Homo sapiens: one gene and its partners. The protein of the gene in region 1 purifies or fractionates together with the protein of each later gene. This does not show direct contact. Each region holds a gene or a part of one and is shown on either strand. Other genes may lie near its edges.

Region 1 (7,114 bases):
AAAGATACCAAATATATAATAAAACAAAATTATGTTTGTCATGTTTTGGTAGCTAAGTATATATATGGTGAGGGAAATTATTAAAATATTATAAAATAAACATGTAGACTGGGGAAGACACCTATAACTTCTGTAAAATGAGAGAATGCATAAAGAATTTCACCACCAAAATGTTAAAAACATATATACCATAAAACCACCTTAACAAAATTTAAAAGCAAATGATAAATTAGAATTCAATAAAGAACCTTTAAAAACCAGTAAGAAAAACATGAATAACACAACAGATAAATGGACAAAAGGTAGACAGGCAATTATTCCATAAAAAAGGGAATATATTAAAATGGTATTCAATAGCATTTTAATCTCATGAATATTCACATTAATACAACAGAATTATTTTCTTAAATTGACAAAGAGAAAGTTAGTTATCAGTGCTCACTAGAACATGTTGGGTATAGATACATACATATATACCCATACTTTGTTGGAAGACACTTTGGTAGTATCTATCAATGGCTTCCAACAATTCATTTTTTTTTTTTCTTTTTGAGAAGGAGTTTTGCTCTTGTCCCCCAGGCTGGTATGCAATCTCGGCTCACTGCAACCTCTACCTCCCGGGTTCAAGCGATTCTCCTGCCTCACCCTCCTGAGTACCTGGGAATTACAGGCGCCTGCCACCATGCCCAGCTAATTTTTTTGTACTTTTAGTAGAGATGGGGTTTCACCATGTTGGCCAGGCTGGTATTGAACTCCTGACCTCAGGTGATCCACTCACCTTGGCCTCCCAAAGCACTGGGATTACAGGCGTGAGCCACTGCGCCCGGCCACCTTCCAACAATTCCACTCCTCTTTGTCCCACCAATTCTACTTTTGCTTAGTTATCTTAAGGAAATCATTGTGAAAATATTTGCAACTGTAAGGATGTTTAGCATAATACTGCTTTTCATATTTAAAATCTGTAAGTAGCCCAAACGGGCCAAAACAGGAAACTAGTTAATTCACTTATGATATAACCACAGGATGGAAAACCAGAAAGTCATTACAAACAGTTCATAGACTATTTAGTGAAATGAAAAAACTGTAACTGCAGATTTTTTAAAATTCTTTCGAATAGCTAATATATTTACATGGTTCAAAAATCTAAGCAATATGTGCACACAACTGAGAATTCTCACCATCACCAACTTCTATAAATAACCAATCTTTCTTACCAAAAAATAGTAACACTGTTCTGCACTGTTTTAAAACTTAATGATAAAAATTTGCCATAATAAATTTTCAGTTTGGAAGAAGGTTATACAATAGCAACATAGCAAATAAACTTATTTTTTAAAAACTGTGCAGAAAAAAAGACTGAAAGTTTATAAACCAAAAACTGATGAATTACGTTTTAATTTTCTTCTTTGTTGACTATTTTTTTTTTTTTGAAACTGAGTTTCACTCTTATTGCCCAGGCTGGAGTGCAGTGGCGCAATCTCGGCTCACTGCAACCTCCACCTCCCGGGTTCAAGCGATTCTCCTGCCTCAGCCTCCCAAGTAGCTGGGATTACAAGCGCCTGCCACCATGCCTGGCTAATTTTTCTATTTTTAATAGAGACGGGGTTTTGCCATGTTGGCCAGGCTGGTCTCGAACTCCTGACCTCAAGTGATCCACCCGCCTCAGTCTCCCAAAGTGCTAGGATTACAGGTATGAGCCACCGTGCCCGGCCATGACTATCTTTATTTTCCAAATTTGAGTACTGAGCATGAAATTCTTTAATCAGTTATTTAAATTAAAAGAAAATAAAACTAGAAGCTGATGTTTAAATTATGCTTACCTGCTTCAGGTTTGTTCAAGTCATATATGCGTAACAGTTTATCCTGTCCCCCGGTTAACAAATAATTACTATCCTGAAAACACAAAGTAAAATGTGAATAGATTAACCATTTTAATAGTTATTTCTCTTTCAAATTTCAACACCAAATAAAATCAAAATCTAGCTCACAGACATCACAAAGAGATGCCAAGACATAACCAATTACTTCTGAGAAGATACTGTGGAACAGCTGACCTCTCATAACTGCCAAGACTTGTAAGCTTTCCACTTCAAAAGCGTTACACTACACTACATATACATGAACTCTCCCATTCTCCCCTGATCCTACTCCTCTCCCTTGTGAGAGGCCCTTTTCTGATTATCTCAAATTTATCTTCTCCCTTCTATTAGTAGTTGGGGAAGGCTACTTGAGCTTTTCAGATGTTTTTTACATGTTGAAGGACTGGTACTCGTTCCACAGTATCTTAAAAGCTTGACAGGATTAACTATGAAACAAATTCATAGAGCTTAATACACAATCAAATCAAATATGAACCAAGAAATAACAAATATTCCACACAAAACATATCAATCAAATATACACACCAATCAAGTATAAAAGCATTATCACACTATGTACCAGCAACTTAACTCGCTAAAATAAATTCCATTTTCTGATACCTGCGTGAAATCCACAGTCTTGACAATGTGTTTATGAGCCAGGGTCATCAATTCATCTCCTGAGACAGCATCCCACACTTTGCTAAAAGTAAAAAAGAGAAAATTAGTAGGATAAATATTACCCAATATATTAAAAGGATAAATACAATTATAATATTGATGAGTACCAAATAAGTTAGATATGTGAAATGTTACATAAATGTATTATAAATCTCCTTTATCTCTAATATCCCTCACAGACTTCATTTGATAAAATATTTAAATAAGCTTAAGGGAAAAGAAATTTCTCTGTAAAAACTTTATAACCAATCTAATTTTCTTTGACAGTGGAAAAGATATGAACAATTTAAGCAAGTAAGATTCATGAACCAACCCATCCTCCTTACTTTTATTTTAGCTGACAGCCATAATATCCCTTTAGCAAGCCTGTCATACATTTTAACCAATTTTTAGTTTCACCATGCCAATTTTTTCTCTATTCTCCACTCAGATGCACAATAAAAAATAAAAATAAATAAAAAAACCAGAAATCCTTAAAAATGTTACAAGGGAATGAAAAGCCTTGGTACAGGCTAAGTAAAATTTTAAATTAAGATAGTGGAGAGACAATGTCCACTTCATCTCTTCTTCAAAGCTGACTTAAAATTTCAAACTCTAGTACAGTTAACTTCCCCCAAACTATCAGCCTTTGATTATATAATGCTAACACTGACTATTTTAATCTTTACATTGTTTTTTCTGTCCCACCCCACCCCAAAATACAAGTTGGTTATAGGTATACATACATTTATATGTGTATGTATATTCTGGGCGGGTAATAGTTGAGCAATACTTTACAAAATTACTCTAAAAGGGTTCCCCCAAATAAAAAAGCTTAAGGAAGGGGGAAAAAAAAGTTGATTTTAGATCAGAACAGGTCAGTGAAAAATAAACAAGAAAACTTTGCAGACAGGGAAAAGAATTGCTAAGAGTGAAAAAGCTATGTTCCATAGAGATTTCCATTTTAATGCAACTGCTATTTATTTTCAGGAACACAGTGGGCAATAAAATGGTAGAGGGAAAAAAATCAGAGAAAAGCAAGATGTATCTTTTCTTTTGCTTACCCCAATACATAATAAAATATATTAAATATATATCATTCTATACTTAGTGCTAAGGCACAAATGGGAGACAAAAAATACCCCACAGTAGGTTCTTGCCATAGTAGAGCTTTAGCTGAGGAGAAAAACATGCATTAAATATCACATTTAAGAAATATAATTAAAAGACATATATATGGCTATAAAAACTCAGAAAAAAGCACCTAGATATTGTCCAGAAAATGTAAGTAACAGAGCTAGCCGTCGGAAGAAGCAAAGAGAAATATATCAGGGGAAAAAGAAGGGAAGGCTATTCTAGATAAGCATTAATAGCATGTGCAATGTGGTTAATGAATATGAAAGACCATCTAACAGGAATGCTCATGATACACTACCAAAGCTTGCAATATTTAATAATGTGGGTCATGTGAGTGGCTGAATAAATATGTTCTGAAAGAAATAATGTCAACTATAAGTAGCCTTGCTGCTAAACTCCCTAGTATTCATTTCTCTTTGCCCAGGAAACTTGCTCCTCTCTCTGTCATTCCAATGCAACTCTCTGGCCCCAATCTACTTTCCCAACCTCATTTTGTATTGTTTCTCTGAATCTAGCAACACTAGATTATAAACCACTCCTCAAATAACTTACGTATTTTCTTCCAGGCTCCTATGTTCTTGTTTATATTATTCTCTTAAGTCTGTATTTTACATTCTTAGCTATTAAAGTTCTACTCACCCTTAGGGCTCATTTCAAATGCTATCTTTTCTTTGAAACTATTTATCCTCAACTCCAATAATTAACCATTCCTTTCTGTTCTCCCACAGAACTCCACTTATTACGGTGCTTAAATTTGCTTTGTTTTTTGTTTACATATATCCTTAATCACAGTGAAATGCATTTCATGGTTGTGGTAAGGGTTCACAAGTATTAGAATGACAGAAAGCATCAAAAGTGAAGAAAACAACAAATGTATCTAAAATTACTATTCTAATTATTCACAAGTCTCCAAAGAAACCCGGGCAATGTCCTTTGATATGCTAATTTCAAGTTTATTAAATAATCTCCCATAAACTTAAAACCTCTCTCTCTTTTTTTTTTTGAGACAGGATCTTGGTATATTGCCCAAGCTATACTTGAACTCCTGGCCTCAAGATCCTTCCACCTCAGCCTCCTAAGTAGCTACAGGCTAACGCCAACATGGCAGCTCTAAAATCTTAAGATTCTGCTTAGACTGTGTCTATTCAAAGGTGAGAAGAGAGTTGGAGTGACCAAAGTAGTAATATTAACCAGAGAGGTAATGTGTCTGTAGTTTTTCCTCCTATTTAGAAACAGTACTAAAATAGAGGCATGACATTTTCTGACAGGGCATGTACTAACTCTGGCAGATTTCCATTATTCACAGTAAGAGCCCTAAAATGGATCTAATCTAAATGTTTCCTAATGTATTATTCAATCTCCAGGCAAGAAATTGACATATATTAGTTGGCCACAGGGCTCAAATCAAGACAGTAAAGCGCTATTAACAATACCCTTTCAGCAGCTAACCCTCCAACATTTTCTTCACATCCCACGAAGTACTTGTCATCTCCTTAAACTACTGTTACCTCTTATACCCCAGTTTCTTGCAAATAATAATGCTGCCTGATACTTTCCATATCCTCAGAATGAACTTACCGTAAGTCTCATAATAGGAGCTGCTTAACTTACTTATTTAAACCTTCAACAAAACAGGCCAGTTTAAGATTTTTAAAAAATTGCCCAAATACCTTAACATGTTGACCAAGTCATCTAGGAGATAATACCATTTTCGATTTATCAAGAACCTTATTAAAACTAAAATTAGATATTTCTATTGGCTTTACAAGAAAGAAAGAGTGATACATTGTGATTACCTATAAATTCCTGGACCCAATCCCAGATCTACTTAAGCCCTCTTGGGAGCACAGCACAGAATTGTCTTTACTTTGGCACTCTTCCCAAATAGATACAAAGAGATGGTGTTTTAGGGACACTGTACTCAACACTGGACTCAATTGCCCGAATTACTCCAAGATAACATTCTACACTAGTCCACAGACCTATTCTGCTAAATTTCTCCACAAGAAACGGGACCAAATTCCACTTCTAAATGACCACACCATAAATGAGTTTTCCAAGAAACGTAAGAATGGAGGGAAAAAAAAATTGTTTCTAAAAATGCTTTATACCAACCATGACTAATCAGGTAGGCTGTGGGGAGTAACTTCTTGGAGAGAATACACACACACACAAACACGCACATGAAAACACGCTCCTACACCCCACAGACAAGACATAGAGGAAATGAGGGATAAATCTCAACTAGCATTTATTGAGCACCTACTATGTGACAGAGATCATATTGGACTTCAGGGATATATGGTGGAGAAAGATCTCTCTGTTCCTCCAATAATCTCATGGGTCTTAGTCCCATTTTACAGATATGAAAGCCGACATTTAAGAAACATCCTGCCATGGTGGGCAGATCGCTTGAGCCCAAGAGTTCAAGACCAACCTGGACAACATGGTGAAGCCCATCTCTACAAAAAACACAAAGATTAGCCAAGCATGGTAGTACACGCCTGTGGTCACTATTCAGGAGGCTGAGGTTGGAGAACTGCTTGAGACTGGGAGATAGAGGCTGCAGTGAGCTATGATCACGCCACTGCACTCTAGCCTAGGCACCTAAGACCCTGTTTCAAAAAAAAAAAAAAATCCTATGATGATCAAACTGGAAATACACAGCATAGTTAGCACACGAATGCAAGCCCACCTAGTGCCAATGCTTGTTATTATTTTCCACTCTAACACAGCACCTAAAGCCTTAACTGAGGAGGGGGAAAAAAAAATCACAAAAATCTTCCTTCTTGACATTTAAATCTATTCAATCTTCCTTATATGAGGCCAAATAGTTTGAAGGCTTTAGCCATATTAGTTTCAAAATAATATGTGATTTTGATCAAGTGCGGGTGGTGATAGTTTACATGGTAGCTATCATCGTTACTTTACATATGTAACACTTTCATAGGTGTAATAGACTTCAGGCAATGTTGTAAGTATTCGAAACATATTAACTTATTTAATATTCAAAACCAACCTATGAATTAGGTACCATGACAGAAAAAAAAATGGTTAAATAAAGTGCATGAGGCCACCAATTCAAATTCAGGTCATCTGGCTCCAGCCTTCATGCTCTTAATACACCACTTGTAAACACAGACATTGAGACTTGAAATGTTAAGAAAGCATAAAAACAACACTGTTTCAATAAACAAGAGCATACAGTCACGTATCTGCCACCACAGTCAATCAGCCTTCATTTTTTCATTCTAAAATTGGTATGTTTAATGTACTTAAAATGAAGGAGGCAGCAGATTTACAATTGCTCCTTAGTGTGAGGTTGTTAAAAAAAAAAAAAAAAAAGGCCAGGCACGGTGGCTCACACCTGTAATCCCAGCACTTTGGGAGGCCAAGGCGGGCAGATCACTTGAGGTCAGGAGTTCGAGACCGGCCTGGCCAACATGGCGAAACCCCGT
Region 2 (6,813 bases), on another chromosome or scaffold:
GAACCTACTCTGTGCTAGGCAACATACTAGTTGCCGGGGAATCAACAGTTAACAGTACAAAGTCTTTGCCCTCATGGTACTTTCATTCTTGGATAAGAATATATACAGTAAACAAAAATAAGTAATGACAGGTAATAAAAAGTATCATAAAAAAATCAAACAAGGAAAAAAGGAGTCATTTTAAATGAGGTGATCATGAAACCTCCTCAAAGGAGGTACTTTGAGCAGAGACCTACGTGAATGGCATAGAGTAGAGCTGGCTATATGACCCCTGGGGAAGCGTTTTCACCAAGAGGAAACAGCAAATGGAAAGGCCATAAGATGGCAGTGTTCTTGGTGTATTTGAGGAAGAAAAAGAAGGCCCACATGACAGAATTCAGGGGAAAGTAAAGGAGGTCAGAGATCTACCTCCAGGGACTAGATCACAAAAGACCTTGAGAGTCATGGTAAAAACTTTGCAATGTAACTACTGGAGGAGGAGAAAACAAAACTTTGTGCTCTTAACTACAAGAAAAAAAAATTGATTTAAAAAAAAAAAAAAAAAAAGGACTAGGAGAAAACATGCCAAAACTGTTAATAGCAGTTTCTCTCTAGGTAGTAAGATTACAGATTTTGTTTTCTGGTACGTCCTAATTTTTCTGAATTTTCCCTATTTCTAAAAATGAATATGTATTACTTTGATACACACACAGAGAATAATGTAATTTTCATAATCCAAAGATCTGAAATTAAAAATATGAATTTGCCGGGCATGGTGGCTCACACTTGTGATCCCAGCATGTTGGGAGGCTGAGGCAGGTGGATTACCTGAGGTCAGGAGTTTGAGACCAGCCTGGCCGACATGGCGAAACACCGTCTCTACTAAAAATACAAAAAAATTAGCCGGGCGTGTGGTGTGCACACTTGTAATCCCAGCTACTCGGGAGGCTGAGGCAGGAGAATCACTTGAACCTGGGAGGCAGAGGTTGCAGTGAGCCAAGATTGTGCCACTGACTCCAGCCTGGGCAACAGAGTGAGACTCGGTCTCAAAAAAAAATGAGTTGATGAAACTTTTCCAGGATTTCAGCATTTTATCTGCTGCCAAATTGTCAGAAGCCAAAATCTCAAATACATCTTAGTCTACAATTAGACTAACTCAGGTTCTTGGGAAGTAGGAGGATTTCCAATGTGCAACATCACCTAGGATTTGGTAGACATAAGATGGACTCAAAAAGCTTCCCAGGTGATGAACATGGATATCTGGGTTAAAAACCACTGTTGAAGATTCATCATCAGATATACCAATGCCTGAGAACTTGAAATACAGTCTGCCATAACAACTAAACTACCAAGTAAGGCTATGAGAATCACATCTAATTCATCTTTGAATCCCCAATGCCTGGCACACTGTTTATACGTAATACGGACTCAACAAACCTTTGTTGGAGAAATGATCCCCAAACTCAAATTTCCTGCTAATTTGGGTAAGGCAATCTTAGAAACACTCTAAGACAACCTGGAAGATGGGAGATCAATATGATACATTTACAGAGCTTTAAGAACCACCTGCATACCGGCTGTGGTGGCTCATGCCTGTAATCCCAGTACTTTGGGAGGCAAAGGTGGGAGGATTGCTTGAACCCAGGAGTTCAAGGCTGGTCTGTGCAACACTGGAGACCCCATCTCTACAAAAAATACAAGAACTAGCCAGGTGTGGTGGCACACACCTGTAGTCCCAAATACTTAGGAAGATGGGTGGGAGGATCACTGGAGCCCAGAAGTTCAAGGTTGCAGTGAGCAATGATCCGCCACTGCACTCCAGCCTAGGTGACAAAGCGACACCGTCTCAAAAAAAAAAAACAAACTCTGCAGTTACCAACAATAGCCAGAGCACTACATTACCATGAATCAAGTCAAATGTTAAGTCTCACATTAATCTAGTCAGTAAGTAAAAGAAGAATCCCTGTCTGTATTACCAAGTAGTGACAAAATTGACATATATGGTAGCTTTATTCTATTTAAATAAGGTACGCATAGAAAATTCCAAATTTCGCCACCACCACCACTTAACTCAATCATTCATCAAATTCACTTCCAGCTCTGAGGAGCTACTGGTATTTCATCTGACCTGTGGTAAAGTCCACAAAACACATCCTCCTCTGGTCCTCTCAGCTAACTCACCTGGGTACTTAAGTTTTCAAGAACAAGAGAGTCCAAAGCTATGGTGGAGAACACACAGGTTTTCCCGGTGCCAGATTTAGCTTGAACAATTAAATCTGCGAAGGAAAAAAACAATTATCACTAGCCAGTACTCACTGAAGCAACTTAGGGGCTAACATGGAATCAGAGAACTAGAAGGGTCTCCTGAGATTCCCCTAGTTGGCACCTTCATTTTTAGTTGATTCTCAAAAACGTATGAGAACACGCCTAGTCCCTGAACGTTTACCGTTTATCTTCTCAAACTTAGAACCATTTGTCAGTGCTTAAAAAAAGGTCTTAACTATCCTCAAGTTCAATAGTGCACGTTAGTTTTACAAATAAGTTAACTGAGCGTAGCGCCTAGCCCCCGGCAGGGCCCTGCTCCGGGGGCCGACCGAGGGCTCTTCCTGAGCTGCGGCGCGGGCCTGGCCGCCGCCGCCCGTCGGTCCCCCTTCTCCCACCCCACCCCCCGACCTATCCCGGGCCCCCGCTCTCACCGAGCCCGCAGCGCCCCAACGGGATGGCCTTGAGCTGCACCGGCGAGGGCCTCTCGAAGCCGGCCGCCCGCAGCCCCTCCAGCACCGGCCGCGAAAGCAGCAGTGACTCGAAGTCGGCCGGCTCCGCCAACAGCACATCCCCCGTGCGGGTCCGCGGGCTGCTGAGATCCTGAGCGGTCCGCAGGATCCTCACAGGCCCGGGTGTTGGCTCTGGGGCCGGGACCTGCACGGCCACATGCTCAGCCGGCATAGCAGTCGCCACTGCTGCTAAGGCTCCCGAGGCTTCAAATGCCGCCGCCATGGTAGCCGCGCCGTCAGATCTCGCGGTGCTTAAGGGGAGGCGGGGATCTTGGGAGCGAGAAGAAGAAAAACTTTATTGGCAGTTTTCCCGCGAAGACACTAACACGCCCGGCCTGGAAGTGGAAGAAAGGGACGGGAGTCGGAGGCTGAGAGACTGCCCAGACACACAAAAAATGTGGCCTGAGGAAAGCCCCAAGAGGGAGGAGAGGAAAGATGAGGCAACTGGTGAGTCGCTGCCTGTGGCCTGCAGAGGGCGCCGCGGGCCTGCGGTGGGGGCACCGCCCCGCCTCTCGGCCCTCTTCTGGGCGGAGCCGCCCAGCCGTGCCCCCGGCGCCACCGCCCTCTCGCCGTTCTTTGTGATGCGCCCGGTGCGTCACGCCCCCGTCTCGTGCTTCCGTTTTCCGTTCCGCTGGCCTGTCTCGCTTCGCGGCCACCTCTTCCCCAACGCTACCCGCTCCGTACCCTGACTCGCTGCTCCTCTGTGCTGGCAGAGAGCGCGCAGAACGTAGCTGGACCCAAGGGTTTATTTACCACATTGGCTGGTGTGTCCATCTGCTGTGCAACCACATTTATCTCCGGTGAGATAAACCCCATTTATCTCCTAGCAAGTCCCTGGCGCACAGTGAGCTCTGATAAAAGTACGTTGAATTGGAACCTGGAACTGGACTAACAGCTCCCAAGTTCGTATCTCCGCCTCAGATCTCCTTTTAAACTCTAGACGTGTGCATCCATCTGCCTCCATGCATCCGCCTCCATGCATCCGCCTCCGCATCCGCCTCCATGCATCCGCCTCCGCAGCACCTCCCTTGGGATGCCTAATAGACTCTCAAATGTTACATGCCTTCTGTATTGCTCCTTCCCCCATCATTTCATGCGTAGGCAGCTAGCAGTCTCTGCCACTTTTCCTTGCTGTGGTCTTCTGCTCAAATATCAGCTTTTCAAAGAGGTCTTGAACACCCTAAGACAGCTCTGTCATCCTCTCTGCTCCCTGGCCTTTCCCAGCACTCTCTTGTTTTGCTTTATTTTTTCTTTATGATACTTATACCTACCTGAAATTATATGTCTTCTGCCTGTCTCCCACACTCTATGAGGACAAGAACCTATTCTGTCTTGTTCTCCTCTGCATCCCTAGTGGGAAAAACAATCTGACACATAGGAAATGTTCAATATTTATCAAATGATTGAGCTCCTATAACAAACTCTTAGTCATCATGCCAAATTTAAATATTTCTGGACCTCAGCCATATTCATAATTCCAAATTTAGTTGTGTGGGGTGGCTCGCACCTGTGATTCCAGCTTCTTGGGAGGCTGAGGCGGGAGGATTGCTTGAGGCCAGGAGTTGCCAGCCTGGGCAACATGCAGAAACCCTGTCTCAAATTCTTAAAAAGTAAACAAATTTTTAAAAATACAAAGAATACCAAACTTAAATATATTCTGCAACCAAGCCCAACTTTGTCCATAGATTATAATGCTGGTCATTGTCCCTACCCCCTTGACACACACACAGTGATGGTCTAGATTCCATATGATATAGGAGGGGCTTTGACATGGTAATCCCATTGGAAGGTGGTCCTGAAGGTTTATTTTGCCTGGAAATGTACAAAACATTGAGAAAATGTCAACTATCCGTTTGAAGGAATGGAGACTGATGGTGGAGATGGCACTAAAGGTCCCAGCCTTCCTCTTAGTGCCCTCACCTCTTTTATCTGCCTAATCCCCAGACCACAAACCTGGGAATTATTCTTGACTCCTTTGCCACTTTCTAACAATTTACCAAGCACAAGTAATTTTGCCTCCAAATATTTCACCCATTCTTCTTCAGTCTCCGTAGAATCTGCCCTATATTTTAGATCCCTTTATCATCCTAACTCGCAAAAACCTCCTGAATGGTTTCTCTGGCCAGAGTTTCTTCTCTATCCCAGCCATGTACCCCACAGGTGCTGGAGTGATCTTTCTTAAGTGGATATCTTAAGCTGTTTGGGTCCAGCTCCAGATCCTGCTCCTTTTGATCCTGCTCCTTTTGATACCCTTTTTTATTCCCCACCCCAGGGTCCCACATCACACTATAAATAATTCCAGTCTGGCTCTTATGTTGTATTTGCTTGGTTACTTGTATGTGCCTCACATTAAATAAACTGTGAGCTTCTCAAGGACAGTAATTTTGTCATCCTAGGCCCTCCAGGCCAGCACCAAGCACCTGGTAGACCCAATAAACATTGAATGGCTGACACCTTCTTGCTCAAAAATCTCTTCTGGGTCTCCATGCACATAGCAGCGGTTCTGTAGAACTCACACCAATCACTGCTGAAGAACCACAGGATTATCCCAAGAAAAGCAAAAAGACTACATTTCCAGAAAACATTTATAGTTTTATAGGCATTCTGTTACTGCATTTGTTGTTTTTGATGTTTTACAGACACAAATATTGCAGTAATGTTATTGGGAACCATGGTGAATAACACAAATTTTTTTTCTCACTAGTCAAAAGTTATAACAGTGTTGTTGACCATAATTTTTAGTGCTATAAAGATCTCTTGCACAAAAGCAAGAAATCATTTAATAACTAGGTAAGGTGTGAGCATAACACATACAGAAATGGGCTTGATTGTGTCTGTCTCCCAGCCTCCCCCGGGATAAATAACAGTGGGATCCCTGTCTCTTCTCTGGCAGAGCAGCCCATCTACCTCCTCCAACCAGACCCAACTAGCCCAGATGCTTAATTCTCCATGACTTGTAACACCTCAATACCTTTGTATTTGCTGTTCCATCTACCTGGAGAGCCTTTCCAGGGAGCTAGAGGAGGGAGAGATTCCTATGAACTGAAAAGGTGAGAGTGACACTTAGACTCAGAATGGGTGTTAAGATTCAAATGATCTCATCCAATCATTTTGCACTGGAGGCTTCTGAACCCAGAGGAAAAGAAAACAGGCCAGGCGCGGTGGCTCACGCCTGTGATCCCAGCACTTTGGGAGGCCGAGGTGGGCGGATCACAAGGTCAGGAGATCAAGACCATCCTGGCTAACATGGTGAAACCCTGTCTCTACTAGAAAAAAAATACAAAAAGTTAGCCGGGCGTGGTGGTGGGCACCTGTAGTCCCAGCTACTCGGTAGGCTGAGGTAGGAGAATGGCGTGAACCCGGGAAGCAGAGCTTGCAGTGAGCCGAGATCACACCACTGCACTCTAGCCTGGGCAACAGAGCGAGACTCCGTCTCAAAAGAAAAAAAAAAAAGAAAAAGAAAACAGTATAAAGGAAGGCATACTGTAAGGTGGCCCACCCTGGGTGTGAGGATCGGTGGGGGAATGTGGAAAGAAGGGAAGAAAACTTAAGATTTTAAAGCCACTTTTTCTCATTTGACCCTCAAAGCAACACAAGGTAGGCAATATTATTATTTGCATTCAATCTACAAAACATCTCTAATCATTCAACAAAAATTTTCTGAACACCTAGTATAAACCAGCCAAGTGCTAGAGATACAAAAATGGAACAAAGTAAACAGAGCCTCTGCACTTGGGGAGACAGATGCACACAAACAGGTATCCTCATTTCCTGTATAAAGTGCAGGGTGCTACTGAAGTCAAGGAGGTAACCAGATGTGGGGAGCCAAGAAAGACTTAGCCATCAAGATTAGGTTTGATTGAAAGTAAGGCCCCAAAATAGGAGCTTACCTCCCCAAGATAGAAGTTCATTTTGCCCTTGTAGAGAATTCTGGAAGCAGGACTGATAAACAGCCCTGATCCACAAAGATCCCAATCACCCAGGCTTCTGCCTTGGTCCCCAAACAGTTGCTGTAGTTCCAGTCATCACGTTTGCATTGCAGCCAGCAGGAAGGAGGAAG
Region 3 (7,000 bases), on another chromosome or scaffold:
TCGTTGACTCAAACTTTGGTTTATCTTTCTAGAATTTGTTACTCTTTTTTCCTAGTGAAAATATATCCTTTTTATTAATAATGCCCAACATTCCACTTAAATGGAAATACTTATAAATCAGATTTTCAGTGAAAGGGTCTAAAACATAATTGTAATGATTTAGAAATGTCATTACTGTGGTAAATTATAGACCTAGGCTTTGCTAAGGATTTCGTCCTGTTTTGTGCTTCACTTATAGTTTTTGTTGTTTTACTCAAAGAAGGGAAATGGAACATCCAATGTGATAGTATTTTATGACCTAGGCAGATTCCATTATATTGCTTTTAAATAGCTCCTATTTCACTAAAGAATGGGAACGAAGTGATAGTTACAGATTTCATCAGTATGTAAAAAGTGAAGGGTTTCTTTTAGGTAAAGATTTCTTTAAATGTACCTGTGAAATGATTCAGCATTTTTAAAATGGAAATGCTTTTGCTGTCTTGGAGTTTTGTTGTTTCAGAAGTTTTCTACTGCACTATTTTGGATAGTCTTTCATTAAAGGACCTAAGCATGAATTACTCTGAAATTTTCTAGTTTAAGTATTGCATAGAAAGTTCATTTTATTGTGTTAATCTCTACTAACTTGAAATATGCCTTCCAAATGCATGACTTACTAAACAGTATTAAGGTATTGGCTGAAGTTTCAAAATAGCGTTACCAAATCTCTTAAGAGTCTTTGGTAGTTTGTGGTCGCTGTCTCTTAATATTAATTACCTTTGTTCTGAAATTGTTGTTTTAGTAATTTTCACTTCATGTAAAGGCAGCATTTGCTAATGTAGTTGCTATACCTTAATATTAAACCCCAGAAATTCTATTTTTGTCTGATAAGTGGAAATTCTACCATAATTTGGGGCAATTCCCCAATATAATAAGTTGTTTCCTCTGAAATGTTTTATTAGCTAAATTAATGCTGCAGTAATAAAGTCTATAATCTTCCCTTCATTTTACTTTTTTTTGCGTTTTTATATGGAAGATTTAGTGACTTATTAACCAGACTTAATATGCTATGGAGATAATGTACAGATATGTATATATTCTTTTTCTTTTTAAAACAGATGAGCTTTGATCCAAACCTTCTCCACAACAATGGACATAATGGGTACCCTAATGGTACTTCAGCAGCACTGCGTGAAACTGGGGTTATTGAAAAACTGTTAACCTCTTACGGATTTATTCAGTGTTCAGAACGTCAAGCTAGACTTTTCTTCCACTGTTCACAGTATAATGGCAACCTGCAAGACTTAAAAGTAGGAGGTAATCTGTCAGTTCTCCTTTGTAAAAATGTAATCACAAAATTTGTCTTGCATATCAATTTGTTCATGAGTGTTTTTCAAAAAGTTTTATGTAAATTAAAACATTTTGGACTTTTAGTTGTACTGTTTAGTGAAGAATATCTGTATAAACCAGCAGAATCCTTGAAAGATTATATTTGCATATATTTACAATAAATGCTTGGAAGATTTCATTGTTTTTCCCCATAATGATGACTGTTTACCCGTAAGATTTTAAGCCAGTACGAATATTGAACTTTTGTAATGTTACTTATGATTATTCTGTCAGGTACTATTTTGGGTAGTACCTGAAAAAAGTAATCCTTAGAGTGTCACCTCTTAGAAGCTGGGCGCGGTGGCTTACGCCTGTAATCCCAGCACTTTGGGAGGCCGAGGCGGGCAGATCACGAGGTCAGGAGATAGAGACCATCCTGGCTAACACGGTGAAACCCCGTCTCTACTAAAAATACAAAAAATTAGCTGGGCGTGGTGGCAGGCACCTGTAGTCCCAGCTACTCGGGAGGCTGAAGCAGGAGAATGGTGTGAACCTGGGAGGCGGAGCTTGCAGTAAGCCAAGATGCCACCACTGCACTCCAGCCTGGGCGACAGAGCGAGACCCCGTCTCAAAAAAAAAAAAAGTCACCTCTTAGATTATATGGAAATTCATTGTGGCTGACACCATACAAATTATTTCACAGGCCTGGCATGGTGGCTCATGCCTGTATTCCCAGCATTTTGGGAGGCCAGGGCAAGTGGATTGCTTGAGCTCAGGAATTCAAGACCAGCTTGCAGCCTGGGCAACATGGCAAAACCCCATCTCTACAAAAAATGCAAAAATTAGCTGAGGAACGTGACATGTGCCTGTAGTCCCAGCTACTAAGTAGACTGAGGTGGGAGGATCGCTTGAGCCCGCAAGGTAGAGGTTGCAGTGAGCTGAGATCGTGCCGCTGCACTCCAGCTTGGGTGACAGGGAGACTCTGTCTCAAAAAAAAAAAAAAAAAAAAAAAAAAAAAGTTTTTACATGTGAAGTGTTTGGCTTACTAAAGGACTGAAATTATGAGGCCTCTGTGCATTTTTAAAAAACGTTTGAGAAAAGAGTCAGTATAATAGCTAACAAGATGCATGCTATAGGAACATTGTTTTGGTTAATCCTCATGGCAGTCCTGTTAGGAATTATTCTCCTTTTACATAAGAGAAAACTGAGGTACAGAGGAGTTTAAAAAAAAAACTCGCCAAAGGTTATGATTGTTAAGTCATCTCATTTGTAGTATGTGTAAATGCCATAAAAACTAAGATTAAGACATGGCTATCTTAGCATAAGATGGTGGTTCTGAAACATTTGTGTGTATCAGAATTAGTGGAAGGCTTGTTAAAACACAGATTGCTATACTTGATCCCCAGAGTTTGTCTTTGGCTAGGACTAGAGTTAGGCCCAGTATTTCTTTTAAGCTCCCAGGTGATGTTAATGCTGCTGGTCCAGGGACCACACTTTGAAAACCACTGGTCTAAGGCAATTCAAATGCTATGTTAAGTATAGCTTGGAAGCAATATATCGTTTCGCAAAAATCAGTTCAACAAACATAACACATTATTTATTTTTAGATGATGTTGAATTTGAAGTATCATCGGACCGACGGACTGGGAAACCCATTGCTGTTAAACTGGTGAAGATAAAACAAGAAATCCTCCCTGAAGAACGAATGAATGGACAAGTTAGTGACTTTGATGCTTTGTGTTTTTTTAGGGCCCTGCATTTGCATATCTTTCACATTAGAAAAGGAAGATTCTCCCCATCTCCTCAGTTTGCACGAAAGAGAGCTATAGTATATAAAGATTACTATTTTAAAATTAATCAAAAGCACTGGCATTTCTTGACCTGAAATAAAAATATGGTCAAGACTCAATTGGGTTTTTACATATAACCCTGAGTCAATGCTTACAGTCAATTTACATACTGTAAGTTTGAAACTTGGCAGCATGACATCCTCTTGTGGATCATATTAAAATGCATCCCTGTATATAGTATAGAGGATATTAAAATTCAGTTTATATTGCACAGTGCTGCTCCTGAAATGATTAGCAATGGAAATTTTTTTTTTTTTGACTGGTAGGTTGTGTGCGCTGTTCCTCACAACTTAGAGAGTAAATCTCCAGCTGCCCCGGGTCAGAGTCCAACAGGGAGTGTATGCTACGAACGTAATGGGGTAAACTTGTGTATTTTTCTTAAACCTTTGCCTGATCCACCATGTGATCTATAAGCGTACTTTAAAATTCAAAATAGAAAACGTAAGCTGCAATTGTTAAAATCAGTTTTAAATTTGGTTTCTAAGAGGCTTCAAATGCAGCATAATCAAAAAATTTAAAAAGAAAAATTCCATAGGACTTCCAAGTGTCTTAGTTTGCCCAAGTATGACCTTAGTTAGAACATTAAGGTAAAATGTTCCTTTTAATCACTTTTTTGGGGGTTGTGGGGGGGATCTTTTTCTGGTTTCTTTTAAGCACTAACACCAGCTTTTTTTGTTTGGAATGCCTTATATAAAATTGTTTTTTTGAAATGTAACTATAGTCTCTGGGCAAATGCTTCCACGTGTGTAAGCTTTTTGAAGTTGGATTGCTGCTCAGCTGTGGACTCGCAGAAGTCATCAGCACCATGGAGGGGAAGTGTGTGTTTATATGAATAAAGTGACTTGTCATAAAGCATTTAATTTTAAGAAATTTGGCTTAAAATGCCAGTATAAGAGGTTTTTAAGTAAGTAAATCACAGTATACAGTGAATATGCATCCTGCCAAAATAGTAATAATGATTTATTAATTCACAGGAAGTGTTTTATCTGACTTACACCCCTGAAGATGTCGAAGGGAACGTTCAGCTGGAAACTGGAGATAAAATAAACTTTGTAATTGATAACAATAAACAGTAAGTTCTTTTTTTTTAAATTTTCTCACCTAAGCGGTTTTTTTTTCCCCCCTCCATTAAGAAATTTGAATAGAGTTAAAAACCTAACTTGTAAGTCTGGATAGTTTTCATGAACTTTCAATTCATCAACTAATGCTTTGAGGTCTATGAATATTGTATTACAGCCATGATGCAGGGTCTCAGAGGAAGATGATAATTAAAACATTGTTAGGCATTTTAAGGACTTGTTCTAGAGATCAGTGAAGGTTTTTCAAAAAATAGTGCTTTGAGGTAAGTTTTGAGGGAGGGGTATAGTCACTATAGAGAGGTGAGAAAAAAGCATTATGATTAGAAGTATCATGACATGTTGGGGGAAAATGGCCAAAAGTTTGGTCGAACTGACCAGAAGGTAAAGTTTGAGCATTCTTCTATGTAGGAATCTGCGTTGTTTAAAACAAGGAAGTGTGATTGGTTTAGATCTTTGGAGGTGGTGGAAGTGGTAGACTTTTGAAAGGTGGGGATGCTGTTGACCAGAGGCAGTGATGTGAGAGTTAACGTGAAAGATGACCGCCTGATATGGATAGACTAAGAGGATGGGGTGGAGGAGTCAAGTCATATTGAGAAGATAGAATCATCAATCTTAATTGATTTGATAAAGGTGGGGTTGGAATTAAAGGGAGTCCCAAATACTGTTTTTCTGGCCTGGCCTACTGGGCAGATGATGGTACCATAAACTGGGCTAAGGAGACATAAGGAGAATGTTCAAGGTGGGAAAAGAATCATACTTATCTTGGCAATTTTTGAGTGTGAGATGTTTGTGATATATCTGGGTAGAGATATCAAATCTACAGTTGCGTGTATAGGTCTGAGACTTAGACCTATTAAGTCTAAGGTCTATTTCCTGCCTATAGGGGAAGTATATAGAGCTGTAGAATTCATCAGCATACACAGTTAAGGAAAATGTAGTTAAGAAAGCCCAGGGAGAATATTATTTTTATCTTGGCATAGGAGAGATGAGAGATGCAAGAGGAGAAGGAAATTAAAATAGAAAGTTGGAGAAAGTGCTAGTAATGTACCTTCCAGTAGCATGTGGAGGGAAAAGTCCTAAGAGCATGTCTGGGATTATCTGCCTTGAACCTTATCTCTTTCTTGGCAAGCCTTGAAGGAATCAGATTGTGTTGTAGGTGTGGTTATTATTAGTTACAGTCTGAAGGCCTCAATTTATATAGTTGTTAATCTCAGAACAGCCTTACCTGGTAAGTTTCTTCATCTGTAAAATGACGTATAAGTTCTCACAAAGTTACTTGTCGATGTTCATACTGCTTTTAAATAGCAGGCATTTAAATTCCCATCTGACTCTAAAGCGTTTTCACTGCAGTAAGTTACAAAAACAGGTAGAATTTTTCTGGTGTCTTTGTTAGTCTGTAACATTTTTTTAAATAAAAAGCACATTTTGGGTTATTTGTCTGTGAAAAATTAAGGGAAGTAATTGCTTGGTGTATAGGTCTTTTCTTAAAACATTTAGACTAACAGTACCATTATGTCTTATACAGTCTATGTTATCTTAAAAACAAAATTGAATTTACATCGCTGCTACACAAATATGAAGGCATAAAAGCAACATGTGGTGTCTCTAACTTGTTTCCATTCTCCAATGGAGGTGGATATCATTACTTTTAAAAGCATAGCAAGTTCTCTTAAAGTCACTTCATTTACTCAACTTTTATGGCTGTTTACTCAGAAATAATTAATGAGATAGCTACTAAATTTAGCACTCACTGAAAATAGAGACCATCTCCTATTTATCTCTGTATCACCAGTACCTTACTTTGCCGCAGATTATACCTACACAAATGTTTGTTTAATGAATAACCTTTATAAGACTTTAGTATTCCCCACCTTTGGTAGCATTCGCTTTGTGGCTTTATTTCAGTTATTTTGTTGAAATAGAAAAACAGAGTAGAACATCACGCACCCATGTGTAAGTTTGTAAAAAAGCAAATCTTCCAACAACAGTCCCAGAGAAAGATGACCTATATATATATTTGCCAAACGTAGAAGGCTAAGGAGTTAAAGTCCTTTGCATATAAAGCCATATGAAAATAATCAAATGTCATAAACCCTGTATTTATTCTTAGTGATGATAGAATTCTTAAAGCCCCAGGAAACTAGTTTCTTTAGACTCATATCTAAGCAGGCCAATACATTTTTAATCCCTGTTTCATTCCTCCTCCCTGCAATTATTTTTTTTCTAGTACTGGTGCTGTAAGTGCTCGCAACATTATGCTGTTGAAAAAGAAACAAGCCCGCTGTCAGGGAGTAGTTTGTGCCATGAAGGTAAGTGTTAAATTTGAGAAACTTGAGTTTTCTTTGGCCACTTGAAATGTTGTACTTCAAACTCCAGCCTTTGTTTTTTTTTTTCTTTTTTATCTTACCCTTTTAAAATATTTCACTGTTAACCTCAAAAGTAGTCTCTTAAAATTCCTTGGTTGCTAATACATTATCTTCTTTAAAATTGGCTGTTTAATTGATAATATTAGGTTGTACCAAATTATATTATTGTGACTACAGTATAATTTTACAAAAATTACTGGTTTTAAGTTGTAATCATAAATTTGTACAGAGTGGTAATAATGTTCTTGGTTTTTTATTTTGCTTCAGGAGGCATTTGGCTTTATTGAAAGAGGTGATGTTGTAAAAGAGATATTCTTTCACTATAGTGAATTTAAGGGTGACTTAGAAACCTTACAGCCTGGCGATGATGTGGAATTCACAATCAAGGACAGAAATGTAA

Evidence for each region.
Region 2: the proteins of STRAP (region 1) and DDX20 purify together in Homo sapiens (affinity purification with mass spectrometry; 4 studies listed by BioGRID and IntAct, with this or other methods). This does not show direct contact.
Region 3: the proteins of STRAP (region 1) and CSDE1 purify together in Homo sapiens (affinity purification with mass spectrometry; 4 studies listed by BioGRID and IntAct, with this or other methods). This does not show direct contact.

Annotation. Positions count from the first base shown.
Region 1 is NC_000012.12:15,885,376-15,892,489, reverse strand, and holds part of STRAP (serine-threonine kinase receptor-associated protein), read right to left. Parts: intron 2,563-7,114; coding exon 2,481-2,562; intron 1,894-2,480; coding exon 1,821-1,893; intron 1-1,820. UniProt on the Homo sapiens protein: The SMN complex catalyzes the assembly of small nuclear ribonucleoproteins (snRNPs), the building blocks of the spliceosome, and thereby plays an important role in the splicing of cellular pre-mRNAs.
Region 2 is NC_000001.11:111,752,088-111,758,900, reverse strand, and holds the start of DDX20 (probable ATP-dependent RNA helicase DDX20), read right to left. Parts: upstream 3,001-6,813; 5' UTR 2,977-3,000; coding exon 2,676-2,976; intron 2,256-2,675; coding exon 2,161-2,255; intron 1-2,160.
Region 3 is NC_000001.11:114,733,985-114,740,984, reverse strand, and holds part of CSDE1 (cold shock domain-containing protein E1), read left to right. Parts: intron 1-1,094; coding exon 1,095-1,293; intron 1,294-2,912; coding exon 2,913-3,022; intron 3,023-3,421; coding exon 3,422-3,514; intron 3,515-4,129; coding exon 4,130-4,227; intron 4,228-6,461; coding exon 6,462-6,543; intron 6,544-6,867; coding exon 6,868-6,996; intron 6,997-7,000. UniProt on the Homo sapiens protein: RNA-binding protein involved in translationally coupled mRNA turnover.